Linked DNA regions of Homo sapiens: region 1 is linked to region 2. Evidence: fine-mapped expression QTL. A gene starts in region 2. The other region holds a variant in brackets. All regions are shown on one strand. Distances are between the middles of the regions. Region 1 overlaps MMP24-AS1-EDEM2 (MMP24-AS1-EDEM2 readthrough). Region 2 holds the start of MMP24 (matrix metallopeptidase 24).

The links. PIP is the estimated chance that this variant, and not a neighbour inherited with it, causes the effect.
Region 1: its variant is the best candidate, but not a certain one, in a credible set for the expression of MMP24 in cerebellum (GTEx, PIP 0.75).

The regions. Positions count from the first base shown.
Region 1 is chr20:35,251,410-35,265,126 of GRCh38, reverse strand. All of the region lies in intron 2 of MMP24-AS1-EDEM2 (MMP24-AS1-EDEM2 readthrough), which reads left to right. It overlaps MMP24 (matrix metallopeptidase 24), which reads right to left. Exons shown (of 9, transcript NM_006690.4): 3 at 13,106-13,222; 4 at 10,373-10,677; 5 at 1,175-1,336. Among named protein-coding and RNA genes, the nearest start is that of MMP24-AS1-EDEM2, 20 kb to the left of the region's middle. RefSeq lists enhancers at 1,566-2,327, 2,328-3,091, 3,092-3,853. The variant A/C (reference allele first, on the strand shown) is at 4,474.
Region 2 is chr20:35,219,289-35,235,739 of GRCh38, reverse strand. MMP24 (matrix metallopeptidase 24) reads right to left here and starts at 9,050. Exons shown (of 9, transcript NM_006690.4): 1 at 8,756-9,050. The coding sequence starts at 9,001. The region is part of intron 3 of MMP24-AS1-EDEM2 (MMP24-AS1-EDEM2 readthrough); the gene reads left to right.

The sequences.
Region 1 (13,717 bases), 31 kb before region 2:
TCCTTGACCCTCCCTCCTTCCTCTCACCCCATGTCTGATCTGTCAGCAGATCCTGTTGTTCTACCTTTGGAATAGCTTCTGGGACCCACAGCCCCCACCTGGTCTCTGCTGCTTTACTTGTGGAGGTCCTGCCTGTCCTCCAGGGCTCTGGCTGGGTCATCTCCTCCAGAGGGAGCCCTCCTTCTGTGCTCCGTAGCCTGTGGGCTGTGGGTGCCTGTGCTGTCTTGACAAGCATTTGCTCAAGTAAACTGGTCTCCCTAGCTCACCTGACTTGACCAGAACAAGAACCTCACATACCAGTGTGAACAGAACTGGGAGAGAGGTGTGTAGGAGGCCTTTCATATCTTACCTAGATAGCAGTAGCTTCTCATCTTTCACCTTTTCTTTCTTTTTTTTTTTTTTTTTTTTTTTTTTTTTTTGAGACGGAGTCTCGCCCTGTTGCCCAGGCTGGAGTGCAGTGGTGCGATCTCAGCTCACTGCAACCTCTGCCTCCTGGGTTCAAGTGATTCTCCTGCCTCAGCCTCCCAAGTAGCTGAGATTTCACTTGCCCACCACCACACCTGGCTAATTTTTTTGTTTGTTTGTTTTAATATTTTTGGTAGAGATGGGGTTTCACCATGTTGGCCAGACTGGTCTCAAACTCCTGACCTCAAGTGACCTGCCTGCCTCAGCCTCCCAAAGTGCTGGGATTTCAGGCAAGAGCCACCACGCCTGGCCCTCGTTTTTTCTTTTTAAAGAACAAAGCTCTGGTTATAGTCCCCATCACGCTGTATCACCGTTACTCCTGCAGATGTGTGAACCTGCCTGGCTAGAGGTGGAATCTATGGGAGCACTCAGTCACCATCTGGTGTGGGAGGGAGGGAGAGAAGCATGAAGGGACGGGGAAGAGTGTGGAAGGGGAGGGGTAAAGGAGAGGGAATGGGTGGCCCTCACCTCACTTTTGTCCCTCTCAGTTACAGCTCAGACCCTCCCCTAGGTTTCCCAGGTGTGCCAGGGGAAGCCTTGCCCTCTGGCCAGGCAAAGCCATTGGAAGTCTGTAAAGGTCACACACAGAGAAACAGCAGCAGTGCTGATGATAGCAACGTCCCCCTCCCTCGTCCCCTGCCCCATGACAGGTAGGCAGTCACAGCCCAGCCCCGAGGAAGGAGCAGTCCCCCCTCTCCCTGCCACACACCATAGATCTTCTGGATGCCCTGGAGATCGTCCTGGGGCAGCTTGAAGTTGTGCGTCTCCATGTACTGGTAGAAGGGCGCCATGATGGCGCTGGGGTCGCTGGAGTGCTCCAGTCCCAGCGCGTGGCCCAGCTCATGCACAGCCACCAGGAAGAGGTCGTTCCCTGTGGAGAGGAGTGTGGGGAGGTGCCCAGGGCACCTGCTTAGATATGAGTCGGTCAGCCAACCCATTACCTCAGCAAACACCGAGCACGGGCCCTGTGCCAGGCCCCGTGCTGGACACCAGGGACATACAGAGAAATCAGGCACAACCCCTGCCTCCCAAGCCTCTCTGCAGAGCAGGGACAAGGAGAGAGAGAGTGACAAGTGAGGCAGAGGGCTCTGGGTGCTTTAAGAATGTCTGGGAGGGTCGAGCAGGGATTCTGAGGAGAGAGGGGTCATTTAAACCTGGAGGAAGATGTTCAGGGAAAGCTTCACAAAGGTGAAGTTGAAGCTCAGTCTTGAAGGATCAGAAGTTAGTCAGGAGAACGGATTCAGGGGGCAGGAGAGGAAGGGTGGGGGTGGCATTCCTGGCGGATGGAATGCAATAAACACAGTCCAGAGACAGGCAGTTTCATTCCACCTGGCTCTGGAACAAAGCAGGAGGGGAGGGCCGGAGAGAGATGAGGTCAGCCAGGCTGGAAAGCAGGGCGCTTAATGCCATACAAAGGAATTTGGATCAGCTTCTTGGCTAGTGGGGGGTTTAAGTAGGAGTGGGGGTGGTGATACAATTAAATCACTCTGGCTGCAGTTGAGGGAGGATTAGAGGGAACAAGACCTGGGGCAGGGGGATCTGTTTGGATGCTGGGGTCCAGGCGAGAGATTGTGGGGAAAAGCAAGAGAGATCAGATTGTTACTGTGTCTGTGCAGAAAGAAGTAGACATAGGAGACTCCATTTTGTTATGTACTAAGAAAAATTCTTCTGCCTTGAGATTCTGTTAATCTATAACCTTACCCCCAACCCTGTGCTCTCTGAAACATGTGCTGTGTCAACTCAGAGTTAAATGGATTAAGGGCGGTGCAAGATGTGCTTTGTTAAACAGATGCTTGAAGGCAGCATGCTCCTTAAGAGTCATCACCACTCCCTAATCTCAAGTACCCAGGGACACAAAAACTGCGGAAGGCCGCAGGGACCTCTGCCTAGGAAAGCCAGGTATTGTCCAAGGTTTCTCCCCATGTGATAGTCTGAAATATGGCCTCGTGGGAAGGGAAAGACCTGACTGTCCCCCAGCCCGACACCCGTAAAGGGTCTGTGCTGAGGAGGATTAGTAAAAGAGGAAGGAATGCCTCTTGCAGTTGAGACAAGAGGAAGGCATCTGTCTCCTGCCCGTCCCTGGGCAATGGAATGTCTCGGTATAAAACCCGGTTGTATGCTCCATCTACTGAGATAGGGAAAAACCGCCTTAGGGCTGGAGGTGGGACCTGCGGGCAGCAATACGGTTTTGTAAAGCATTGAGATGTTTATGTGTATGCATATCTAAAAGCACAGCACTTAATCCTTTACATTCTCTATGATGCAAAGACCTTTGTTCACGTGTTTGTCTGCTGACCCTCTCCCCACAATTGTCTTGTGACCCTGACACATCCCCCTCTTCGAGAAACACCCACAAATGATGAATAAATACTAAGGGAACTCAGAGGCTGGCGGGATCCTCCATATGGTGAGCGCTGGTTCCCTGGGTCCCCTTATTTCTTTCTCTATACTTTGTCTCTGTGTCTTTTTCTTTCCTAAGTCTCTCATTCCACCTTACGAGAAACACCCACAGGTGTGGAGGGGCAACCCACCCCTACAAGAGATGAAAAGGCCCTGAGCTGGCTGGGCGTGGTGGCTCACGCCTGTAATCCCAGCACTTTGGGAGGCTGATCGGGGTGGATCACTTGAGGTCAGGAGTTCGAGACCAGCTTGGCCAACATGGTGAAACCCCATCTCTACTAAAAATACCAAAAATTAGCCAGATATGGTGGCCTGCGCCTATAGTACCAGCTACTCCGGAGGTAGAGGCAGGAGAATCGCTTGATCCTGGGAGGTGGAGGTTGCAGTGAGCCAAGATCGCGCCACTGCACTCCAGCTTGGGCAACAGAGTGAGACTCCATCTCAAAAAAAAAAAAAAAAAAAAAAAGGATGCCCTGAGGTGGAGGGAGGGAGTGGGGACAAAGAGAGCAAGTCCTGGCAAACTGGCAGTCAGCTTCAGGAGACCCCGGGCAGGGCAGGTGGGGCCCGGGCGTGGGCAGCTCTCTGCAGGACCTTGGTTGTGGAAGCAGGGAACTGTTGGCTAAGATTGAGGCAGGGATTCAAGTGTAGGTGAAAACACACTCCAGGTCCTGGAAGTGGGACACAGGATCCTGAGGGTGGAACTGAGGCAGCTCCATGGCACGGTGGTTACGAGCTTGGGCTCCTGAGTAGGACAGATTACCTTCATTCCCCCTGCCAGTTTGTGAATATGGCCAGCAGGGCTACCCCTAAGCCTCAATGTCCTCACTTGTAAACTGGGGGCATCAGACCTACCTCACCGGGTTGTGTGAGGTTGAATAAGATACACGTGAAGTGCGTGGTATGACACAGAATGGCAGCTGTTGTAATCCTATGTAAGATAGAAGCTTGGTTACTGGAGGAAGCCCATTGACCAGAAAGGAAGCACGAGGCCAGTGGAGCGCCAGCAACCAGATCCTCTGAAAGCCAACTCCCCTGGGCTTCTGTATTGTGCCTAGGACAGGACAAGGAGGCCTGAACTTAGGGGGATGAAGTAACCGCAGCTTTGGGGAGAAAATGCAGGGGGTAGGGAGTCAGGTAGGCTGTGGATCACCAGTCCTGACTCCTGTCTGCCCAGTGTCAGACCCTTGCTTGCCTTGACCTCTGGCATTTGTAGCCCCTTGAGCCCTGCCTCTTATCTTCTGGCCCTAAGGCATGGCTCGGCCCATTCCTGCCACCTGTAAGTCCAGGGAGGCTGCCAGGAACCTAGGAGGTGGTCTAGAGTCCTACTGCCCACTCTGGCCCCAGCGTCACTGGCCTAGGGACACATGGGGGTGGGGATTGTTTGGCCTTCCTGGCTTAGGTCTCTGGAAGAGAGAAGAACCCCATGGGGCAGACCCAGGCCACGGGCAGTACATGCCTCCCACACTACTGACACCGCCAGTGTCTTCTGTGAAGCCACCTTTGAGCAACGGAAAGGAAGGGGGATGGGCAAGATCAGTGCAAGGTTGGCCAAAAGCCTGGGGCTGGCCTTCTGCTGGCATGAGAGGGCCAGGCCGCCCCCAGCTCCTT[A/C]CTCAGGTCCTGGCCCCTCTGGCAGCAGGGAAGGGTGAGCTCATCGCTGAGCTCCATCCCAAACAAACTGGTAGAGCCAGCGGAAGGCAGCTCTGCTTCCTGGGGTCCAGTCCTGGCTGTGCTCCTGGGCTATTCTATGACCTGGGACAAGCTGTTCAGGGCCTCTGTCTCCTGAGCAGGCTCTTCCCCAGGGGCTGTCCACAGGGAGCTCAGCTGGGAACCAGGGAACACGGCTCTGAGCACTGTGGGAGACTCAAAACCTTTGTCCGCAGCCTTGTCTCTTGCTCTTTTAACCCCTGTTCTGGGTCTGCAGAGAACAGGAGTGACCCCTTAAAGGAAAGAGGCCTGTGGTTTGGGTCCAGGAACCAAAAGGAAGGGAAGAGCGAGGGAGCCAGTATCCTGCTGCACAGAAACCCAAGAGAGCCCTGAGGGGGAGACAGAGGGAGCAGGGCAGGGGCAGGAGGACTCCCTGAGCTTGTGAGGTGAAGGCAGAGGTATGAGGAGGAGAGGCCTGCTATGAGGACCCCATGCTCCATGGGCAGGAGGCTGCTAGGGTCTTCACTCTTCAAGAGGGTGAGCGGCAGGGAAGCAGAGTGGTCAGGAATGCAGTCTCTGGGAGCCAGACTGCCTGGTTTTGAATCCCAGCTCTGCCATGTCCTAGCAGTGTGACATTTTAAATTCTTCCTCTGGAAGATAGAAGGAACAATGGCACCTTCGTCATAGGGATGTGGGTGAAGATTCATGGGGCAGGGTGTGTAATGCGCTGATACCAGCTCCTGGTACAGAAGTATTACCCTTCATTAGCAGGGTCCTGTTGAGCTGTGTGTGAGCACCAGCACCCCTGATAGGGTGTGTTCCTGTAAGTCCCTGGGCCTCCGAGCAAGTCCCCAGCAGTCTACTCGGCTACTCAAGTGGACCTTGTCTCTGCCTCATTTCTTTCTTTTAGGATCTCCATATTTGGTCGTTCCCATCTCATTAACTCCCCCAGCCCCACGAAAGGTGATAGCATTTCCCTTTGCCTCTGTTCTTCTGCCAGTGCTGCCCCTTCCCCTGGAATAACCTGATTCCTTCAAAGTTCAGCTCCATGCCTGTCTTCCAGGAAGCCTTCCATGACTTCCCAGCTGGCAGTGAGTGCTCCTTCTGCTGTGCCCTCCCAGCAGTTTCCCTGAACTGCCTTTATGGCACTGACCGCTTCCTCCCCACGTGATTGCCACTAGTGCACATGCTCGCTGCCCCAGGACTGTGGGTTCCTTGAGGACAAGCTTTGTGTTGAAGAACCAGGTGACAGCCCCCGGAATGGAACAGCGCCAAAAGCACCGTATTTTACCAAGGGAAATACTCGGACCACCTGCAGCAGAACCACCTGTGGTGACTTAAAAATGCGGAGTCCTGGGGTCACACCTGGCTCTGCCACTTTCCAAAGGGGTGAATTTCCTATTTTTTTAAAAAGTATTTTCTTTCTTTTTTATTTTTGAGACAGGATCTCACTCTGTCACCCAGGTTGGAGTGTAGTGGTGCAATCTCGGCTCACTTGAACCTCCGCCTCCCGGGTTCAAGCCATTCTCCTGCCTCAGCCTCCCGAGTAGCTGGGATTACAGGCATGTGCCACCACACCCGGCTAATTTTTGTATTTTTAGTAGAGACGGGGTTTTGCCATGTTGGCCAGGCTGGTCTCGAACTCCTGACCTCAGGTGATCTGCCCCCCCTCGGCCTCCCAAAGTGCTGGGATTACTCCAGTGCTCCCATCGCACCTGGCCCGGGGAGCCTTTTAAACACATGGAGGAGGTGGGGAAGATATTCTGATTCAGGAGGTTTGGTTTGGGACGTAGGCAATCTTTTTTGTTGTTTTTTTTTTTTAAGTTCTCCAGGTGAATTGTATAATGGTTGGGTCAGGCTGACACAACCTGAAGCAAATGCTCGACCTCAACATCACTAAAAGTGGGACAGTCTGCATCATATGTATTTGCTAATATGGTGAATAGGAAGTACCAGCACCACCTAGGAAGTATTCTTGCCAAAAAAATTGAACTTGAATCTAGTCAGCCTGTAAATCTAATGAACAACATTCAGGAATTATGGGCAAGAGAGACGTATTAAAAGTAAACTTGATTCTAGTCACGCCAAATGATTATACTCGGGACACCTGACCCAGTTTCTTCAACAAATATATGGAGGGAAACGTGTGTGTAGGACGGGGGTGTTTTAAATAAAAAGGGCTTTAAGAGACATGTCAGCCATGTGTGTGTGGATCTTGTTTGGATCCTGATTCAAGCAAACAACTGTAAAAGACATTTCCAAGGTACTTTGGGAAAGTGAACTCGAACTGGGTATTAGATTTTAAAAAATTATTGTTAATTTTGTTGGGCTTGATAATGATTGTGTGCTTATGTTAAAAATTAGCCTTTATCTGTTAGAGGTATATACTAAAGTATTTAAAGGTGAAATGTTAGAATGCCTGAGATTTTCTTTAAAATACATCAGCCAAAAAAAGGTAGATAAATAGGAATGCCACAACGTTGATAATTGCTGAGGCAGGTGGTGGGTATCTGGGAGATCATAGAAGCATTCTTCCTACTTTTGTGAGTTTGAAATTTTCCATAATGAGAGTTTAGAAAAAAGAAGTAAGCTAATAAGTTCAAAAAGTTCCCAGGAAACTCCACCCCTTTGCTGAGTCTATGTGGAAATTAAACGAGATAATATATGGATGCTCAATAAATTTTGGTTCCTTGCCTCTCACCCAAAACCTGCCTTCACTGCATTCCAGTTCAGGAGTCGATTGCTGTGGTCCTGAGCTGCATCTGGACAGTTCCTGCTTGGTTTTCCAGAGCAGAGCAAAGTCCTGATTCTTATCCAAAGAAAACATTAGCAATCTTGGAATTTCTATCAGAATTGGCAGTCTTTCATGAAGGTTAGGGTTGGACAGATGGGAGAGGTGCTGGGATGGTGCCCATCCACAGGTCCCCGGTCCTTCCCACACATACCACCGGCTCTTGGGATTTGGGGGCTGGGTCCAACAAGTTCTGCAAAAGCAAGGAGCAGGTGTGGGAAGTGCACACCCCCAGTGCTGGGCAGAAGGGGAGGGCAGAGGAGTGGGAGTGTCTTCCCGTTGCCTCTGGACAACTCTTTGGACATTCATTTGCCTCTATCAGGAATATAACTAAAACCCTATCAGCTAACAGTGCCTGGCACATAACAGGGCCTCAAAAATATTAGTTCTCTTCTCCTCACATCTTATCTGTTAGCACAGACAGCCATTCGTTGACACCGATCCAAAAATAAGAATGAGATAAAGAACAGGTACTCAGCCAGGAATACATGCAGGACATACGGGAGAGATACCAGGGCAAAGGAAACGGAGTTCAATAGGAAAGAGGACAAAAATCTGAAGAAAGAAGAGGACAAAGAACAATTTAACAGGTTCATGACTTTGCCTAGGCTGAGCCTTGGCCAAACCACCTCCTGGTCCAGCCTTTGACAGATAACCCCAGAGCTGCCAATCCCTAATCCATGCGATGATATAAAGTGTTCTCAAGGAGGTGATCCCCAACTATAGACACCAAACATGGCCCCAACTATAGACACCAAACCAGCTTTGAGAGTCTGCTCTCAGCCTGGAGCAGCCGCAGGGCAGGAAAAAAGGATGCTCGGTGTTTCCCAAGCTTGTTTGAGCTCAAGAGTCAGGATTTCTGTGGGAAGGGCCTGGGAATCCCCGTTTATAACAAGAACCCCCATTGGTTCTTATGATCAGGCCAGGTAGGAAAACTCTAGGTATTAAGATAGCGTTTCTCATGGTGATGGAACACCTGCATCAGAAGGCCCCAGGAATGTATTAGACCACTTGCAGATTCCCAGGCCCTACCCCGGACCCAGAGAATCAGAATGACAAGAGGTTAGGGTCCTGGAATCTGCAGTCTTTTTTTTTTTTTTTTTTTTTTTTTTGAGACGGAATCTCTGTTGCCCAGGCTGGAGTGCAGTGGCATGATCTCGGCTCACTGTAACCTCCGCCTCCCGGGTTCAAGGGATTCTCCTGCCTCAGCCTCCAGAGTAGCTAGGATTACAGGCACCTGCCAACATGCCTGGCTAATTTTTGTGTTTTTCGTAGAGATGGGTTTCACCATGTTGGCCAGGCTGGTCTTGAACTCCCGACCTCAGGTGATCCACCTGCCTCGGCCTCCCAAAGTGCTGGGATTACAGGTGTGATCCACCGTGCCTGGCCTGGAATCTGAATTCTTAAAAATGGTTCCCAGGTGATTCTGCTGTGCCCTACAGTTTGAGAACCATGGAAGCTTAGCATGATGGCTGACAGCATGGGCTCCAGGGCCATAATGCCCAGATTCAAAGCCTTATTTCACCATTCACCAACTGTGGGACCTTAGGTAGGTGACTTAATGTTTCTCTATATCTCAGTTTACCTATCTGTAAAATGAAGATAGCAATATTTACCTATAATAATAATTTAACATTATATATTGCTTAATACATAAATTTAATTATGCATTATAATGTATTAATAGATATAATAGTTTCCACACATAATGGGTGGCAAGCACTTGGCACGGGCCTCAGAACACCAGCATACCCACTAATTATCATCTCTTATAATCCAAAAGCCACACTCCTCTGTCCCTCTTTCCTCCAAACTCCTACATATTTCTTTGTGCCTCTGCTACAGCCTTGGGTAGAGTCTGTCTATGACAGGGTTACTTACGTGCACACCTAACTCCCCTGCTAGACTGACTCTGGACTGCCAGGGGACAGAGATCATGCCATTTTTTTCAAACATTCAGCTCCCCCTGGTCTTTGCAAGACTTTGTATCATGTTCATTAGAGTTGGAAGGGCCCTTAGCGATCACCTAATCCAGCCCCTCACTTTGCAGACGAGGAGACCGAGGGTATCACATAGCCAGTAGTTGAACCAGGGCTTGATACCTGCATTGTCACCTTTCAGCTATGCCAGTTGAGCCCCAACTCTTCATCTTAAAAATGGGTGTAATAATGTACACTTGCCTACATACTAAGCATGTGCCTTGTGAGTAAATATTGATGATGAATTTTTTGGCAACCTGCAGGGTATCATTACTATTGCTGCACGGTATTGACTCTGCCTCCATAAATATTCATTGAACCATAGTGGTGCAGGGTAAATTATCCAAGGATGCCAGAATAATTTCAGGGCCTGCTACTCACCTGTGAGGGTGACAAAGGAGAGAGCCAGTCGTGTCATTCATAAGATGGCTTTTGGAGCCCTCATCATTCAGGCCAGAGCCTACTACTTTCAGACCCCTCTTTCAGCTTTAATGCCTTTTAACTTTTTTTTTTTTTGAGATGGAGTTTCACTCTTGTCGCCTGGGCTGGAGTACAATGGTGCGATCTCGGCTCACTGCAACCTCTGCCTTCTGGGTTCAAGCGATTCTCATGCCTCAGCCTCCTGAGTAGCTGGGATTACAGGCACCCGCCACCACGCCCAGATAATTTTTGTATTTTTAGTGGAGACAGGGTTTCACCATGTTGGCCAGGCTGGTCTTGAACTCCTGACCTCAGGTGATCCACCTGCCTTGGCCTCCCAAAGTACTGGGATTACAGGCGTGAGCCATTGTGCCTGGCCCCTTTTAAACTTTTTCTTCAGCCTCTGGTCCATTACTTTATCTTCTTACTGGCCTAACCTTACTTTTCTCCTGCCAACCGGACTATCTTCTAAGTGATCTGACTCATCTCCATGGCCCTGGCCCTGGTGGATTGAACGTTGAATATTATCAGAAATCACAGTTCCCACCCTCTTACGGTCTTAGTTCTTGGACAAGAGGCTCTAGAAAGCAGGAAACTCATCTAGGATGTCCTCCAAGTTCTTTCCCAACAACTGAGCAGCCCAAGACTGACCCCTGTCCCCTCATGGCCTTACCGTCATGGTTGGCATTTCCTAGCGTCCATGGCTCATCGGAGTCAAAGTGGGTGTCTCCTCCAATCCCTGGGCCAGGGAAGTAGGCATGGGCCAGGAATCCCCCTTCTCCATCAAATGGGGAGCTGTCGCCATGGAAACCAGAAGCAAAAAAGATCATGATGTCTGCCTCCTTCCGGTCACTTTTGATCTCATGGTATGGCACCTCTTCAAAGGTCAGTGGGGTCACCTTCTGCCACACATCGAAAGCCTGGCGAATAGCTTTCCGCGTGTCTAGCTCACCCACTTTTGGGGTATAGTTGTGAATGCTGGTGAGAGAGGGGAGGATCATTAGGCAAGATCAGAGAGTCAGAGACTAGCAGAGCTAAAATAGATACCTGAGACAATGTGGCTCAGTGATCTGATTTTGAACCCTAGAATTCTGCTTAGCTGCCTCAGGGATTGAAGAAGAGGCTGAGTAACAGAGCTCTGGATCCCCACCCTGCCTCAGTCAGATGGCTTTGCTTTACTCAGTGTTTTCCATTTGATCTCCAGCAAAGCTGTGTCGAATAAAGGATTCCACTCTAGTTTGTTGAGAAAAGTAAATTGGGGCTGGGCGCAGCGGTTCACGCCTGTAATCCCAGCACTTTGGGAGGCCGAGGCTGGCGGACCACATGAGGTCAGGAGTTCGAGACCAGCCTGACCAACATGGTGAAACCCTGTCTCTACTAAAAGTACAAAAATTAGCCAGGCGTGGTGGTGTGAGTCTGTAATCCCAGCTACTCGGGAGGCTGAAGCAGGATAATTGCTTGAACCCGGAGGCAGAGGTTGCAGTGAGCCAAGATTGCACCACTGCACTCCAGCCTGGGTAACAAGAGTGAGACTCTGTCTCAAAAAAAAAAAAAAAAAACCCAAAGGAAATTGGTAGATAGCATTTTCTGAATTTTAAGTTTTTTTCCCTAATACGAAATATGTTCATTTATAAAAGTTATAAAAATATTCAAATAATAGAGAGGAGTTTAAGTGAAAAGTCTCTTTAAAAAATCTTTGGTACCAATCTTTGGCTTGTCTGCCTAGAAGCTGGCCGGTATCTGATTTAATCCATTATAGGTTTAGCTGTTTAGCGTCGCTGTGTTCATATTGCATTGGTTCTTCACAAAACAACGTTACTACCTGTGGGTTCCCTGCCCTGTGACCCTCTGGGGCATGGATTATTCTACCTACTCCACACGTAAGGAAACTGAAGCCCAGAGAAGTCTAGTGATAGAAGTTACTCAGAGTTGGGTTAGAACCCAGTGCTTCTTTCTCTTGATCCACTCTACCCCTTCAAGAGACCCAAGAGTCTATTCAGTTTCTAACCTAGATTCTTAAGTTTCCTTCTCTTGTCAGATTTCTGGAAAAAAAAAATCCCGTTCTGAAGGGACAGCTTATCAGCAGAAGAGCCCTTAGTTCAACCCTAACTTTCCTTCTCTTGTCAGATTTCTGAAAAAAAAAAAAAAAAAAAAAAAGTCCCGTTCTGTAGGGAGTGCTTGTCAGCAGGGGAGCCCTTAGTTCAACTCTTGAGGATCTCTGTCTTAGATCTTGCCTCTGCACCAAAGGGATCCACCTGAGATGACAGCAGAGCCTTGAGAAGTGCCAGCCAGCACCCACCCGAGCCTGCCCATGCCTGGCCCTTGCCCCAGCCCCACCTGAGCCTGCCCATGCCTGGCCCTTGCCCCAGCCCCACCTGAGCCTGCCCATGCCTGGCCCTTGCCCCAGCCCCACCTGAGCCTGCCCATGCCTGGCCCTTGCCCCAGCCCCACCTGAGCCTGCCCATGCCTGGCCCTTGCCCCAGCCCCACCTGAGCCTGCCCATGCCGGGCCCTTGCCCCAGCCCCACCTGAGCCTGCCCATGCCTGGCCCTTGCCCCAGCCCCACCTGAGCCTGCCCATGCCTGGCCCTTGCCCCAGCCCCACCTGAGCCTGTCCAGTGCCTGCCCCTTGCCCCACCCCCACCTGAGCCTGCTCAATGCCTGGCCCTTGCCCCAGCCTCACTCCGGTGCTTCAGTCTGCTGTGATGGGCTCCATCATCTAGTTCTTGGGCCACTGATCTGACTTGGAGATGGATCCTGCTCTGCCCTTGGTTCCTCCAGACAGTCAAAGATGACACTATTATGATTCAGGTCCCAGTTCTTTATACTCCTTAAGAAACAACTGGAACTCTGCGTTGGGAATCTCAGGTGAAGTCCATCAGGTGGATTTTGGGGTGGGAGGATCCAGATCAGAGGGAATGGGGTTTGGCAGGCAGTGATAAGGAGACTGAATTAAGCCATGGTTTTGTTTGTTTTGTTTTGTGGTTTTTGTTTCATTTGTTTTGTTTTGGAGACAGAGTCTCACTCTGTCACGCAGGCTGGAGTGCAGTGGCATGATATAGCTCACTGCAAGCCACGATTCTTTTTCACAGCTGAAAGTTACCAAACCATTCATACCCCACTTCCTGTAACCTAAAAACTATAGGCATCTAAACAGAAGACAACTAAGAGCCCCCAGAGGACCAAATAAACCTGAGGTTGGAGTCACAGCATCCTGTGGAAGCCACAAGGAGGACAAGGTTATGGGCTCTCAGCACCTAGTGCCAATGCCCACATGCCTGGCTCTTGGCCTATGTTGTAAGCCTGATCCCCAGGCCCCCCTACATTGTGAGCCTTTGAAACTCAGGCCAGGAAAAACAGAGTGAGGGTGGAGCCAAAGGCAGGGAGGAAGAGGGAGAGTCGAAGCACCTGTAGGTGATGTGTTTTTGCCTCCACTTCTGTCCAGTCAGGGCATAGCGCTTGTTTCTCCGCCTACGGCTTAAGTGGGGGTGATCAGGGACACCACATCGGGGTTTCTTCATCCACCTGGGCAGAGAGAGGACACACACACACGCATATGCACTGTGGTCACTGAACACTTTAGGAAGGGACTGCCTATTCCCCAGCTCCAGTCTGGAAAGCAATGTGCATCCTCAAGCTACACTCTGGGACCCTGGCTTGGATGGACCCCAACAAGAACATGATTGATTGATTCATTAATTCATGCACTCACAATCATAGATGAGGAAATAGCTGTATAAAGACTGAGAATCAGAATATATGGGCTTGATAAGCTCCAGCTCCACCACTAGTCATAGGACCCCCAGGCAAGTGGCTGAACCAATATGAACCTCAGTTTCCTCCTCTGCAACATGAGAACTCTAGTTCTTGGTCTTAGGTGGAGGTGCGTCTTCAAGGAGGAAGTACATGTGAAAATGCTCTGTAAATGCAATGAGATTACAGGATGCCCTGGTTAAAAGCCTCCAGCGACTTCCCCAAACACTGAGAATAAAATTCAAACTCTTCAGCTGGGCACGGTGG
Region 2 (16,451 bases):
CTCAGGGTTTTTAAAATTTAAATTAAAAAAAATTTTTTTTTGAGACATAGTCTTGCTCTTGTCACCCAGGCTGGAGTGCAATGGCGTGATTTTGGCTCACTGCAACCTCCGCCTCTCGGGTTCAAGTGATTCTCCTGCCTCAGCCTCCTAAGTAGCTGGGATTACAGGTGCCCACCACCACGCTCAGCTAATTCTTTGTATTTTTTAGTAAAGACAGGGTTTCACCCTATTGGCCAGGCTGATCTCGAACTTCTGACCTCAGGTGATCCACCCACCTCAGCCTCCCAAAGTGCTGGGATTACAAGTGTGAGCCACTGCACCTGGCCTAATTTTTTTAAGACAGGGTTTCACTCTATGGCCCAGGCTGCAGTGCAGTGGTACAATCTCTGCTCTCTGTAGCCTCAACTTCTTGGGCTCAAGCAATCCTCCTGCCTCAGTCTCCCAAGTAGCTGTGACTGTAGGTGTATGCCACCATACACAGCTAATCTTTGTATTTTTTGTAGAGATAGGGTTTCGCCATGTTGCCCAGGCTGGTCTCAAACTCCTGGGCTCAAGTGATCCTCCCAGCTTGGCCTCCCAAAGTGCTAGGGTTACAGATGTGAGCCCCACAGCCAGACCAAGTCTCAGTTTCTTAACTGCAACAGGGAGATGGTTGAACTAAATAACCTGTAAGTCATGTTAAAAAGTTCCATTATTTTAGCCTAAGTGGATTGACTGTGAAGCCGATCTTCTGGTTCCTCATTGCCAGTCTTAAAGTCCAGATTCTTTAGCATGACACAACAACCCTTACAATGTGATGCCAATGCACCTTTCCAGCCCTGTTTTCTTTTGTAGAGATGGGGTTCTGCTCTGTCGCTCAGGCTGGAGTGCAGTGGCACAATCATAGCTCACTATGACCTCAAACTCTTGGTCTCAAGCAATCCTCCAGCCTCAGCCTCCTGAGAAGCTGGGATTACAGGCATGAGCCACCATGCCTGGTTCTGCCAGCCTCATGTTCTGTCCTGTACCTTCTACCCTTTATTGCTCACCTCAAGTACCCCAACCTCTAGCTATACTGACCTAATTGTGTTGCCTGAGCATATCCTGCAGAGTCCTGCCTCTGTGCCTTTATTTCATTCCCTCTCCCTAGAACTCCTTTCCCATATGTACTCTGGCCTCCCCATGGTGCGCTACTTCAAAATGCAACTTGAATGCCACTTCATCAGGGAGGGCTATCTGTCTGGGGTTAAATGGACTTTCTATGTGCTCCCAATGGCATTATATGTATCCTCATTTATAGCATATTTTGTATTACATTATAAATAATGGTTTACATGCCTGTAGTCCCCTTTGAACTCATCCTCATGGAAGTTACAGCCGGTGGGAGAGATAGACATGGAAATACTAAACATTTCATTACAGTGGTGATAAGTGGAATGAAAGAGAAGAACCAGGAGCTACAAAAGTGTGTGGCAGGAGATATAGGCTGTGATATCAGGGATGGCCTCCCTGAGTACATGACATCTCAGCTGACATCTGTGAATGAACAGAAGAGGCTAGGTGAAGGCTGAGAATGAGACTCCAGGAAAGAGTACCTTACTGAATTCCTGAATGGGAAGGAGCCTGTATATTAGAAAAAGAGAGGGAAGGGCAGGGTGACTGGAGTCTAGTGACCAATGGGGAGAATGGGTGGTATAAAAGGAAGTCAGAGAGATGGGAAGGACTCAGTCATGCAGGGCCTCATCGGCTTCATTAAGCATGTTTTTGTTTTTGTTTTAGACAGGGTTTTGCGCTGTGGCCCAGGCTTGAGTGCAGTGGTGTGATCTCTGTCCACTGTAGCCTCAGCTTCCTGGGCTCAAGCAATCCTCCTGCCTCAGCCTCCCAAGTAGCTGTGACTACAGGCACATGCCACCACACCCAGCTACTCTTTGTATTTTTTTGTAGAGATGGGGTTTTGCCATGTTGCACAGGCTGGTCTCAAACTCCCGGACTCAAGTGATCCTTGTGGGTGCTGCGTCCAAGGGAGTTTATAATATTGTTCTTTCCATTTTCATATGCATTTGAAAGTTTTCCATAATAAAACTAAAAGGAAGAAGTGATAGTAGTACAGTAATAATAGTATAATCTTTGTCCTAAGAGTCATTTTAAGCCAGGTGAGGGTGGGAGTAAGGTGATCAGATTTTGGTTTGTTTTTAATTTTTTTTATTATTCAATATTTCAGTCATTCAGAAAGGCATAAAATAACAATATATATTGGAAAATCACCAGCCAGCTTTGTCAAACATTAGTTTTTGCCATATAGGCTTCAGATATAACTGACTCCTGAGTGGACTGATTGATTGATTCATTGATTGATTTTTGATACAGAGTCTTGCTTTGGCTGGAGTACAGTAGTTCAATCCTGGCTCACTGTAACCTCCGCCTCCCAGGTTCAAGTGATTCTTGTGCCTCAGCCACCCAAGTAGCTGGAACTACAGGCATGTACCACCATGCATAGCTAATTTTTTTGTATTTTTAATAGAGATAGGGTTTCACCATGTTGGCCAGGCTGGTCTCGAACTCCTGGCCTCAAATGATCTTTATACATACATATGTATAAAGAGAGAAAGGAGTAAAGAACAACTCCTGACTTTCTGGCCAAGTACTTTTGGTGCCCTTTATGCCTCGTAAGTGTTTGTGGCATAGAATTGAGTCTTTAAATTACTGCTAACAGGCAAGGCCAGGGCTCATGCCTGTAAGCCCTTTGGGAGGCCAAGGTGGGCGGGTCACTTGAGCCCTAAAATGAGTACTCGCCCCTAAGTTGTGCTAAGAAAGCTTAAAAGCATTCAGGGCAGGAGCCAGCAGCCAGAACAACTCAGGAACAAACTCCAGTCCCTCCACTTCCTCAACATGGCTCTGAGCAGGTCGCTCCTCTGCTCAGAAACCTTTAATGACTCCCCTCAGCCTTTGGACAAAAGCCAAATGCACAATCTGCTCTCAGTCTCCCTCTCCAGCCTCTTCTCCTTATACACTCTTACTGGAAACAGCAAGTAACTTGATGATTCAGGCACATCAAATTATCCACTGTTTCCTAAACATGCCATGCATTTTTGTGGAGCCATGGTTCATATTTTTTATTCTGCCTGGACTGCCCCACTCACCCTTCTCCATCATTCTCCTCCCTCAAAGGTTCATCTCAGATACCACCTTCTTCCTGAAGCATTCTCTGGCTTCCCGAACCTCAACTGGGGAACCTCATCTCCTCCCTCTTCGGTGCTTCCCGGCACCTTGTTATACCTCTAGCATGCATTCATTTATTCTTCACAAAAGGTAGCGACTTTTGTGTGCCAAGCACTATTCAAAGAAGTTGATGGGGATTAGATAACAAAATTAATTTTAAAATATTTATCACATGTCCAGAATGTATCATGCACTGTGCTAGGTACTGAGGAGATATTGGCTGTGGTTTGTTCTTCCTGTTTTGAGTTCAAACAATACCATACTATAGGGCTAGGCATTTCCTAAGATTAGTCTTTTGGGTACAATTATAATTTACTTTTATTAGTTCTAAAAATACCTCTTTCAAGGACCAGAGTAGGACATACTTGAAAGTAGAAAAGACTGGCTAAAAGGCTACAATAATAATCCAGAACAGGAAACTTGTATAGTGGGCAGAGTGCTGAGCCCAAGAACAGAAAACCTAGCTTCTGTTATTTGCTTTAATTTCTTTTTTTCTTCTGAGACGGAGATTCACTCTTTTGCCCAGGCTGGAGTGAAGTGGCACAGTCTTGGCTCACTACAACCTCTGCCCCCGGGGTTCAAGCAATTCTCCTGCCTCAGCAGCTGGGATTACAGGCATGCACCACCAGGCTCAGCTAATTTTTGTATTTTTAGTAGAGATGGGGTTTCACCATGTTGGCCAGGCTAGTCTCAAACTCCTGACCTCAGGTGATCCACCTGCCTCGGCCTCCCAAAGTGCTGGGATTACAGGTGTGAGCCACCATGCCTGGCCTGCTTTAATGTTTATGAGCTATGTGTGGGTCCTTAGACAAGATGATAGGCAATTCACATCATCTTTGAGTCTCCTTTTACTCACCTATAAAATGAGGACAATGTCTTCCTTATCTACCTCATGGTATTGTTCCCAGGACCAAATAGGGCCACATACATGGCATATGGGAAGTGCAAAGCACCTTACAAATATAAACAGCTATTAAAGTAATATGAAACCCCACAGTAAAAATAAGAGAAAATGAATTAAAAATACAGTAGACTAGATCCAGCTTATGTAAAAGGGAAAACTTCCTAATAGTGAGTTTTTTTTTTCCAGACAAGAATGAAGATATACTGGAGGCCATGATCACAGTGAAAGAATATTTTGATTTGGGAATACGTTGGTGCTTCTTAGTAGGTCACTCTCTTACCCCTCCAATCATTCGGGGTCAATCTTCCTTGACTACAGTTTCAAACCAAAGACTGTTCTCCATCTCCTCAGCACAAACCACTCAAAACCAGTCTCAAGGGCAGGAATCCATAAGTCCTGGGTCTAGGAGTCACACTCTGTTACTTATTCATGTGGCCTGTGATAATTGACTTGTCTCTTTCATCCTGTTCTGATCTTCCTCAGAATCAAGTTGGAAACTAGGAAGGCCAGAAAAGTATTTGAGGAGCATTCTACTCAGCAAATAAGAGAAGTGGTGCTTTTAATAAATCAAATGAAGGAAGCCAGTTAGAGAATCAGTGGGACCTCTTGATGTGTAAGATAAAAAAGAAAGACTAAAGAAAGCATAGGATCCTGTTTGTTGAGCTTCAAGGGGTCGGGGGTTGTGGGGTGTGGAGAAAAATAAAGCAAAGGAGAAGATAGACTGAATAAAAAAATTTTTTGGCTTGGTAATGAAAGATCATAGATACGAAATGAAAAATCAATGATGATGAAAAATGCTTTCAATTTAGAAATCAGGAGAACTAGGAAAAGTTCTACAGTAGTTCCGAATCATCTACTATCACGTTCTGTGCCCTTGGGCAACTCAATTAAAGAAGTATCTAGTAAGTGCTGTAGTAGGTACTGGGTGATCTCTAAGGTCACGGTTATCTCTCAATTTCTTTCTATTGATGCCACTACCATTAGAAGACTACCTAAAGAGTTCTGAAGGAACTCAAGGGTGAGCTTGTGGAACCACTGCCAAAAGGAATAGGCTTGATTTCTACCGAAGAAAGTACAAGTTGGCAATGAGTCCCATCTCTAAGAAGGGTTTTAGAAGGGGGCTTGGAGCCCCATGCCCATGAGTGCCTATTTCAGATCCATGTAACTTTTTGAGATAAAGGATAAAGAGTAGAATCATTGATTGCTCATTGAATACTTAATGATGAGCATTGAGAATCAGGGATTTTGTTCAATGTAAAAAAATAAAACATTTTGGTCAAGAAAGCCTTGCCTAAGAACCAACCTTCCTCTCCCCAAAAATAATGTTTAACTATTAAAAAATAAATAGGGCTGGGCACGGTGGCTCACACCTATAATCCCAGCACTTTGGGAGGCTGAGGAAGGTGGATCACTTGAGGTCACGAGTTTGAGACCAGCCTGGCCAATACGGCGAAAACCCTTCTCTACTAAAAATACAAAAATTAACCGGGCGTGGTGGTGCATGCCTGTAATCCCAGTTACTCAGGAGGCTGAGGCAGGAGAATCGCTTGAACCTGGGAGGCGGAGGTTGCAGTGAGCCGAGATCACCCCACTGCACTCCAGCCTGGGCAACAGAGTGAGACTCTGTCTCAAAAATAAATAAATAAAATAAATAAAAATAAGTAAATAAATAAATGACAAACTGGCTGGGGCTGCCTTAAAAATGTTTCCTGGAGAAGAGAGAAGAAAATGACAACTAGAGAAATCAGGGAAAGTTTATTGGAGAAGCAGGGCTTGAGCTGAAACTTTAAGGAAAGGTTTCAAATGAACGGGTAGGGGTGCAGAAGTAACTATGTGACAATGTCCAGAGAAATATGGGCAGCCTGTCTAAGGGTAAAGGAGAGATGAGCTTGTCGAGTAAGGATGCGTTATCAATAAGCAGTGGGAAATATGGCCTGCTAATGGAGGGGTAGGGTGGAGACAGACTCCAGAGGGCTTAAAAGACAGAAAGAGGAGTAAGCAATATTATCTGCCGGCTTAAAAGCAACAATATTTCTATAAGGTGTCAATCAAGTGATCCCCTAGTGTTCAGTGAAAGGATAATTAGGCACAAATTATTGAGAGAAGCAGTGGATATAATTTGTCTATCTTTCAGGAAGTTTTGGACAATGTATTAGACATTTAAAATGGAGTCATTGTCAAATTAAGGATGATGTTTTTGTCACTTAGAAAACAATAGATAGATATAAATGGTCACTTCCGTGAATGAAAGGGGATTAAGAGTGCAGGGGGCCCCAAGAGACCATGCTGGGACCTGTCTCACTTAAATTTTTTATAAGTGATCCAGAAGAAATATAGCAAAGTGAAAATTTCAAGACTTCAGATCATATTAAGCCCTTTCAGACAGGGAAATGCTATGCCAAAAGAGAAGGAAGGAGGAAGAGGTGGAGGAAGGGAGAGAGAGAGTGAGCGAATGCTTGAAGGAAGTTACTGAGTGCAATGCAAGATGGCAGACAAACGTCAAGGTGGAGAAATGTAAGGTAATGCACTCCGATAAAAATAATCCACATACAGGGTGTTGTGTTCCAGGCTATCAGTTTTGACCCAGGAAAAGGCTCCGGGAGCTATTATAGATTGTTCCCTAAAGGCAGTGGCCTAGTGTGTTGAGATCAGGAAAGCTGACAGAGGGAAGGGGGAAGCAGGATGGGACCAGGAGAGCAAAGAAGAAACCAACCTTCCTTTATGCAAAACCGTAGGGTCCTGTATCTGGAGACAATGGTCAAGTTGACATCTATTGAAAATTAGGGCCAAAAGGTATCTAGAAAAGGACAACTAAAATGACCCAGAGAATGAGTGTGGCTATTCTAGGGGTCTCGTGTCATAGGGGGAAACTTAAGTTTAAAAAGACAAAGGCTAAGAGGTGGAATAATCAAAGCCTATAAAACTGATACAGGTAAGGACTAGCTTCCTCTTAATGCTTGAAATATTGTAGGAATAAAAAAGTTTCAGAGTTGAGATTGTCTAGCTCTATCTCTTTATGTTAGACATGGTGAAATTCAAGCCTAGAGAGGGCAAGGAAATGGCTCAAGGTCACACAAACCAATGGGGGCCAAGGTCAGATCAGAGCCCAGGCCTCCTTAATCCCAGGCCAGGGTCTTTCCACCTCATCCTGTGCACTCAGGCAGTCTAAAGCAATCTTTCTTCTAGGGTATAAACTTAGGAAATGCATTACTTTAACATGTGATAAAACACATGTGAAAACACAAAGAGGCTAAGCAAAGTTTCCACAACAAGTCAACCAGCAATTATAAAATCTTTGGAGGACAACTGCCAACTGGCACTAAAGGTTCTTTTACACACCATATCTTTTTTGTTGTTTTGTGGAACCTGTAACCCTTTGAGAGGCTGAAGAAATCTAGGGGTCCTCGCCTAGAAATACACACATTTGCACTTACAAATTTGTACGCAATTTCAGTGCACGTATGACCCCCTGAGCTCCATGCCCAATTAAGAATATCTCTTGAGGCAGATTCTTCTAAACAAACAGACTGCCTGCTTCAACAAATATACTCCATCTCTTAGGGTGGCGAGGCTATCACTCTGATTTTCCTCAGCAAAACACCATTGTCCCAACATCATTTATTAGAATATTGCAGTCCTCTAGGTTGGAAGATACTAGAGAAATTAGTCCAACTGCACCCCCCATGAGATATAGGATAAGGTCATGGGTAAATAAGGGGAGACTAGAGTCAGCCTGCCTAGGTTAGAATTCCAATTCCATCACTCACTAGCTGTGTGACCTTGGGCAAGTTACTTAAGCTCTTTGAGTCTGTATCCCCATCTGTAAAATGGGGATAATAATTGCAGCTATTTCATAGAGTAGTTATGAGGATTGAATTGGATAATTCGTATAAAACATAGCACCAGGCCTGGCACATAGTGAGTGTTCAGTAAATGCTAGCTGGCATTATTGTGATGATGATGTATGCATCCATGCAAGCATTATGCATGCCTCCATCCAATCCCCTCCGAGAGCTTTTACTTGCACATGCCAGTGATGAGCAGCTCGCCGCCTCCTAAGCTGGTTGAGCAGCTCCAATTGTTACAAACTTCTTCCTATATCGAGCCCAAATTTGTCTTCTTGCAACCCCCACTCCCGCTGGCCCTAGTTCTGCCCTGTGGGGCCAAGCTAGAACAAGTCTATCCTACCTCCACCTGACAGCCCTTCAGCTACGAAGACAGTGATCGAGTCCTTCCTCCGCCCTCCCCCTCCCCCTTCTCCAGCTTGAACATCCTCGGTTTCTTCTCCCAACCCACAACAGACTGGCTGCGCTTACTATTTACTCCGAGGCGTTGTACGGTTTCCCTCGCACATAGTCATGCAGGCCACACACCCCACTGCCAACACAACAAACCCGACCCTCGTGCTCGGCCCCCGCCCGCTGCCCCTGTCCGCGGTGCTGAAGCAGCTCCCGGCCTCGGCGGCCCTCGGCGAGGCCCTCCCCAGCCCCCGCCCTGGGCCGCGCCAGCCCGGACCCAAGGCGCGGACCCCCGGCGCGCCGCCTCCGCGACCTCGGCAGTAGGTGCGGCCCGGCCCAGGCCCGTCCCCGGTGCCGCCCCCCGCCCTGCCCGGATGCCCCGAGCCCGCGCCCCGGCCCCGCGCGCCAGCCCCACCTGCCCGGCGAAGGGCGCCTCCGCCTCGTCCGCCCGCGCCACCGCCACCGCCACCGCTGCCCGGTTCCCTGCCCCCGCCGCCGCCGCCGCCGCCCGCGCGGCGCCCGGGAGGCAGCAGAGCGCGGGCAGCAGCAGCAGCAGCAGCCGCCCAGGGACCCGCCAGCGGCTCCAGCGCGGGGCCTGGCCCGGCGGCGGCGGCGGCGGCGGCGGCCCCGGCGCGGCGCGGCCGCCCCGGCTCCTCGGCATCCCGGCGGCGGGGCCCGCGCCCGGCCCGCCTGCCTTCGCCGCCGCCGCCGCCGCCTCGGCCGCCAGCGCGCCCCCGCCTCCGCGCGCCCCGCCCCGGTGGGGGGCGGCCGGGGGCGCGGGGGCAGCACCCGGGCGGGACCTGCGAGGGCAGTGGCTCCCCGACCAGCCCTGGGGCAGGGGCCGCGGAGCGGCGCTGGGGAGGGGGTTGCAGAGGCTAAAAGAACAGTTCTAGAGGCAGGGTCCGAAGGGGTGGAACTGGAGGTCGGGGTCTGGGGGTAGCCCTGAGCAGGAGGGGGAAGAGGCTAAATCAGTAATCCTGGAGGTAGAACAACTGGATGGCCCTGGGGGAACATATCCGGGGTTGGGGGTCCGGAACCCTGGGGAGAGGGTCCTAGGGAGTGGCATTGGAGGAGAGGGGGCCTGAGAGGCAGCCTGGGGGAGGAGACTGAGGAGCGGCTCTGGGGTAAAGGCGGGGTTCGAGAGCAAGCTAAAGAAATAGCCCTGGGTCTGAGAGGGTGACTCCGGAGAGGGAGCTCTGAGTGGCTCTCCTGGGCCGGGGTGGTGGGGGAAAGGGGTAGAGAAGACCTGAGGAGCGTTTAAGAGGGGGCATTCCTGTGAGACATTAGGTGAAGTTGAGGTGAAGCTCAGTCCCTCACCCCTAGAGGGAAAGAGCTCATCCAGCTGGGAAGATCATCTTTCATCCAAAACAACCCATATTTATCAAGCGCTTTCTATTTGTAGGGCTCTGGGCTACTTGGGATGCTGAAAGGAAAAAAAAAAACACCCAAAAACAAAAACAAAAAAGAGAAGGCCGATTTCCTGGAGTGCAGAGGTTTACAGCTTGATGAGAAAACATAAACGCAAAGAAAAACAGAATGGCAAACACCACGTGTCAACAAGGATACAGGCGGCTGCTCCAGGGGTCGAGGGAGACCTGATGAGGGGCTGGGGAAGTTAGGAAAAAGTGTAATGGAGGAGGGTGGGACTCTAGCTAGGACCTGAAGGAAAGGCTGGATTTAAACCAGGGGAGGGGAGAGGAGAGGGCATTTCAGGGAGGAAGTTGAGGGTGTACAGGATGTGCCTGAGGCGGCAGATAAGTTTCTCTGGAGCACAGGGTTCCTATAGGAAAGTGTTGGGAAGTGAGGGAAGTTGTACAAGACAGTGAATGCTAGGATAATAAATTTGGGTTGTGTTCTGAAGGAAAATGGGGGAGGGTGGTCATTAAAGGTTGTGTGTGTGTGGTGTGTGTGTGTGTATGTGTGTGTTTAAGCAGGATGATGTGTGAAAATAGTATTTTATGATTACGTGGTAATTTGGAGATGAAAAAAGGGCACAGGCTTTAGCGTCAGACCTATGTTCATATCTTGGCTCTGTTCCATTTTTATAAAATGATGCTACTATTACTGTATAAGATTGCTTTCAGCATGAGGTGCTTGACACTTAATAGATATTCCATGTTAGTTCCCCTCCCAGTGGAGAGAATAATGACCAGAGGAGGCAGAGAGATTGGTTAGGAGACTAGTGTAATAGTCTAAGTATAAGGAAATAAGGATAACAATAATAATTAACATTTATTGAGTGCCTAATACATACTAGTTACTGGGCTAAGCACTTTCCTCCACGATATCTCATTTAATCTTCATAGATAAACCCTATGAAATAGATGCTATTATTACCCCTAATTTAGGATAAAGAAGTGGAAGACTCTGAATAAGTTTGCCAAACTTGCGTGATTCATAAGTGATAGAGCTGAATCGATTTGACTTCAGAACCCATTTTTTTCTAGGATGGGGGTGAGAAAAGAGACAGATTTAAGAGACAATGGGCATACAAGAAGAGGGAAAGGAGTTTGGAGTGATGGCAAATCGAGAAAGATGGATGGTAGCATCTTCACAGAAACGGAGTCCTCATGTGGAGGAACTGGCTTGAAGGAGGTGACAAGGAGCTCGGTTTTAGACTTGCTGAAACTGGGGTGACCACAAGATCTGTGAGATGGGTATGGGAATGAGTTCTCGAAGAAGGTGGAGAATGGATATTTTGGACACCTTCAAGTAAATACGGTAGTTGAAGCTGAAAGCAAAGAGTTGAAGAGAGCAAAAGGCCAAGAGTTCCATCCTGAGACATACATATTCAGAGCCTGAGAAAAGTCAAGCCAAAAGTGAATCTAAAGATTGTCCAAAAAGACTGAAGAATCAGGATTGTGGAGTATCACCGGAAAGAAGAAGAGAGGTTCAAAGAAAAGGAAGGAGTTGGCTGGGCGTGGTGACTCACACCTGTAATCCCAGCATTTTGGGAGGCCAAAGCAGGCGGATTACATGAGTCCAGGAGTTTGAGACCAGCCTGGCCAACATGGTGAAACCCTGTCTCTGCAAAAAATACAAAAATTAGCCAGGCATAGTGGTGCACACCTGTAATCCCAGCTACTGAGGAGGCTGAGGCCTGAGAATCGCTTGAACCTGGGAGGCAGAGGTTGCAGAGAGCTGAGATTGCGCCACCGCACTCCAGCCCAGTAACAGAGTGAGACTCTGTCTAAAAAAAAAGAGAGAGAGAGAAGGAGTTGACAGTCTCAGGGAAATCAAAGAGACTGAAGACTGTATTAACACCATTGAGGTGAACAGCTCACAGTCCCGGTAGGGAGATGATAGAGACAAATCATTGTGGTTACATGATGAGTTATGACACGAATGAGAACAAAGTGTTGTGGAAACACTGAGGAAAGAGCAATGAACTGCCAAAGTTGGAAGGTTTGGGAGGGGATATATTCCAGAAAGAAGAAATAGTATATTCAAAGAATGAAGGGGAACAGACTGGACTGAGCTCTGTCTTATTCTTCTCCTTTCCTCTAATACCAAATGCTTGTGGAACTGCCGATGATGATATAGCACTGTGGTGGTCCACCTTGACCAGCTCCCAAGGATGGCGGATGTGAATGGCAGTAGGTATTGATGATAAGGAAAGAAGAGGCTGATAGAAGTCAATGGTTGCTTATAAAATGGATCCCTAAGATAGTCCTTAGTAAGAGGACGGTCCAGAGACTGCTGTGAAATCAGTTCAAGAGGAGGTTTAGAAGGTTTCAGAGCAACACCCCAAGATAGAATCACGGGAACTCTGACTTTGCAGCCTCCAGTCACCATGATGAGCATGGGATAAAATGGAAACAGCACTTGACTTAACGTCAGATACCTGATTCAAGCACTGGCTCTGTCACTGACTTTTGGTATGCCTTTCAGCAAGTCACTTCATTTATTTGGGCCTTGGTTGCCTCATAAAATGAAATGAATGACCTCTGTCTTCTCCACTTCACTTGAAAGACCACATGAGTGGTTGGAATTCACTTAATGAACTATATGGTAAACTGACCAGCTGCTAGGAAAAGCTTTTTATTATTATTATTATTATTATTATTATACTTTAAGTTTTAGGGTACATGTGCACAATGTGCAGGTTTGTTACATATGTATACATGTGCCATGTTGGTGTACTGCACCCATTAACTCGTCATTCAGCATTAGGTGTATCTCCTAATGCTATCTCTCCCCCCTCCCCCCACCCCACAACAGTCCCCGGAGTGTGACGTTCCCACTCCTGTGTCCATGTGTTCTGTTGTTCAATTCCCACCTATGAGTGAGAACATGCAGTGTTCGGTTTTTTGTCCTTGCGATAGTTTGCTGAGAATGATGATTTCCAGTTTCATCTATGTCCCTACAAAGGACATGAACTCATCATTTTTTTATGGCTGCATAGTATTCCATGGTGTATATGTGCCACATTTTCTTAATCCAGTCTATCATTGTTGGACATTTGGGTTGGTTCCAAGTCTTTGCTATTGTGAATAGTGCCACAATAAACATACATGTGCACGTATCTTTATAGCAGCATGATTTATAGTCCTTTGGGTATATAGCCAGTAATGGGATGGCTGGGTCAAATGGTATTTCTAGTTCTAGATCCCTGAGGAATCGCCACACTGACTTCCACAATGGTTGAACTAGTTTACAGTCCCACCAACAGTGTAAAGGTGTTCCTATTTCTCCACATCCTCTCCAGCACCTGTTGTTTCCTGACTTTTTAATGATTGCCATTCTAACTGGTGTGAGATGGTATCTCATTGTGGTTTTGATTTGCATTTCTCTGATGGCCAATGATGATGAGCATTTTTTCATGTGTTTTTTGGCTGCATAAATGTCTTCTTTTGAGAAGTGTCTGTTCATATCCTTCGCCCACTTTTTAATGGGGTTGTTTGTTTTTTTCTTTCTTTTTTTATTATTATTATTATACTTTAAGTTTTAGGGTACATGTGCACAATGTGCAGGTTAGTTACATATGTATACATGTGCCATGCTGGTGTGCTGTACCCATTAACTCGTCATTTAGCATTAGGTATATCTCCTAATGCTATCCCTCACCCCTCCCCCCACCCCACAACAGTCCCCAGAGTGTGATGTTGGAAAACCTTTGACACTGATAATCTTAACAAGAAATATTATATTGGGGCTGGCGCAGTGGCTCAAACCTGTAATCCCAGCACTTTGAGAGGCTGAGGCAGGTGGATCACCTGAGGTCTGGAGTTCGAGACCAGCCTGGCCAACATGGTGAAACCCCATCTCTACAAAACTTAGCCGGGCGTGGTGGTGCACGCCTGTAATCCCAGCTACTTGGGGGCTGAGGCAGGAGAATTGCTTGAACCTGGGAGGCAGATGTTGCAGTGAACCAAGATTGTGCCACTGCACCCTGGCATGGGCGACAAGAGACTCTGTTTCAAAAAAGAAAAAAAAAAAAAGAAAAGAAAAGAATTATGATATTGGCTGGGCACAGTTGTTCACACCTGTAATCCTACCACTTTGGGAGGCCAAGGAGGATGGATCACTTGAGCCCGGGAGTTCAAGACCAGCCTGGGCAACATGGTGAAACTCTGTCTTTACAAAAAAAAAAAAAAAAAAAAAAATTTAGCTGGGAGTTGTGGCACATGGCTGTAGTCCCAGCTACTTGGGAGGCTGAGGAGAGAGGATCACTTGAGGCCAGGAGGCAGAGATTACAGTTAGCTGTGATTATGCCACTGCACTCCAGTCCGGGCAACAGAGCTAGACCCTGTCTCAAGAAAAGAAAAAAAAGAAATGTTATATCAGTGCCTGAGCTCACTGTAGATAAACTGGGTCCCCTCTTCCCTTCACCTCCTTTCATATTTATTTATATATTTTGAGATGGAGTTTTGCTCTTTTGCCCAGGCTGGAGTGAAGTGGCATGATCTCGGCTCACTGCAACCTCCGTCTCCTGGGTTCAAGCGGTTCTCCTGCCTCAGCCTCCTGAGCAGCTGGAATTATAGGCACCCACCAACATGCCCGGCTAATTTTTGTATTTTTAGTAGAGATGGGGTTTCGCCATGTTGGCCAGGCTGGTCTCAAACTCCTGACGTCAGGTGATCCACCTGCCTTGGCCTCCCAAAGTGCTAGAACTACAGGCATGAGCCACTGCACCTGGCCTCATATTTCTTTATTCAACTAATATTTATTAAATATCTTTTTGGTGCTAGATACTGTGAGTGGGGCTAGGGATGTAAAGAAGATCAAGTTATAGTTGCCTTCTTTAGGAAGATAGTCGGTTGGGAAGATAGACAATTATCCAGATAACAAGATAACATAATATGTGCTATAATAGAGAAATGGGAGTAGGGAGGAGGGAACAACTGACTGTCTAGAGATGGCAGGTGAGACAGACCTTGAGTGACCAGCAGGAGTTTGCTATGTAGAATGGGAGGGAAAACTATGTACAAAGACAACAGATATATATGGAGACAACAACCATTTACATAATAATACGAAGACATTGTTTTCTTTTTAAACTCTCATTTTCTCATGAGAGTACTGGGTAGTTTTCCAGGGCTTCATGGCACATTATACAGATTGAATGAGAAGTAAATAGGATAATACAATTATCTTCTATTAAACCAGACATAAAACAGATTTTCAAAAAAGCAAAACAGTAGCATTCCTCTCACTATTTTTTTTGTTTCGTTTTGGAACAAAACAGCTAAATTTTTATTATTTTTTTAAAAATAAAAATGTTATGTTAACATGTTTATTATTGTTATTTTAAATGAATTAGTATGTAAATATTTAACAATTTCTCAGTTTTGATCCCTAGTGTGATACTTATCAATAGACAGAATCCACATAAACAAAAGTTATTTGGAGTCCTGAATTTTCAAAAGTTATTTGGAGTCCTGAAATTTTTTTTTTTTTTTTTTTGAGACAGAGTCTCGCACTATTTCCCGTGCTGGAGTGCAGTGGCGAAATCTTGGCTCACTGCAACCTCTGCCTCCCAGGTTCAAGCGATTCTCCTGCCTCAGCCTCCCAAGTAGCCGGGATTACGTAATAGGTGCCAGCCACCACACTTGGCTAATTTTTTGTATTTTTAGTAGAGATGGGGTTTCACTATGTTGGCCAGGCTGGTCTTGAACTCCTGACCTCATGATCTGCCTGCCTCGGCCTCCCAGAGTGCTGAGATTACAGGCATGAGCTACCAAGCCCAGCCTGAATGTTTTTGTGTTTTTTTTTTTTTTGAGACAGGGTCTCACCCTGTCGCCCAGGCTACAGTGCAGTGGCACAATCATAGCTCACTGCAACCTCAAACTCCTGAGCTCAGGTGATCCTCCCACCTGAGCCTTTCAAGTACCAGAGACTACAGGAATGAACCACTGTGTCTGGCCCTCAATACTTTGAGTGTAGAGAGGGTCCTGAGACCAAAAGGCATGAGTACTCTGTTCTGGGCAGAATGACCCAAAACAGAGGAGCAAAATGATAACGTTTGATTTCACTCAAGAAACAAGTTCAACAAATACTTATGTGAAACACCTATTTTGTGTTGAACATTATTCTCGGTACTGGGATGATAGAGCTTTGAACAAATCTAATAACACTTCCTGCTTTCATGGAACTTAAATTATAATGGAGCAGGCCGGGCATGGTGGCTCACACCTGTAATCCCAGCACTTTGGGAGGCCAAGGTGGGCAGATCACCTGAAGTTGGGAGTTCAAGACCAGCCTGGCTAACATGGTGAAACCCCATCTCTACTAAAAAACACAAAAATTAGCTGGGCATGGTGGTGCACATCTGTCATCCCAGGTACTCAGGAGGCTGAGGCACGAGAATCACTTGAACCCGGGAAGTGGAGGTTGCAGTGAGCTGAGATCGCACCACTACATTCCAGCCTGGGTGACAGAGTGAGACTCTGTCTCAAAAGAAAAAACAAAACAAAACAAAACAAAAACAAACAAACAAAAAAACTGGGGTGATAGACAACGAACAAAATGATTTAAATATATATATGTAGTTAAATAGCATTTTTTTTCTGTTGAGAAAAGCAGGATTTAGGACTTGAAATCTGAATGGTGTGTGTGTGTGTGTGAGAGAGAGAGAGAGAGAGAAAAAAAAAAAATTTTTGGATGGAGTG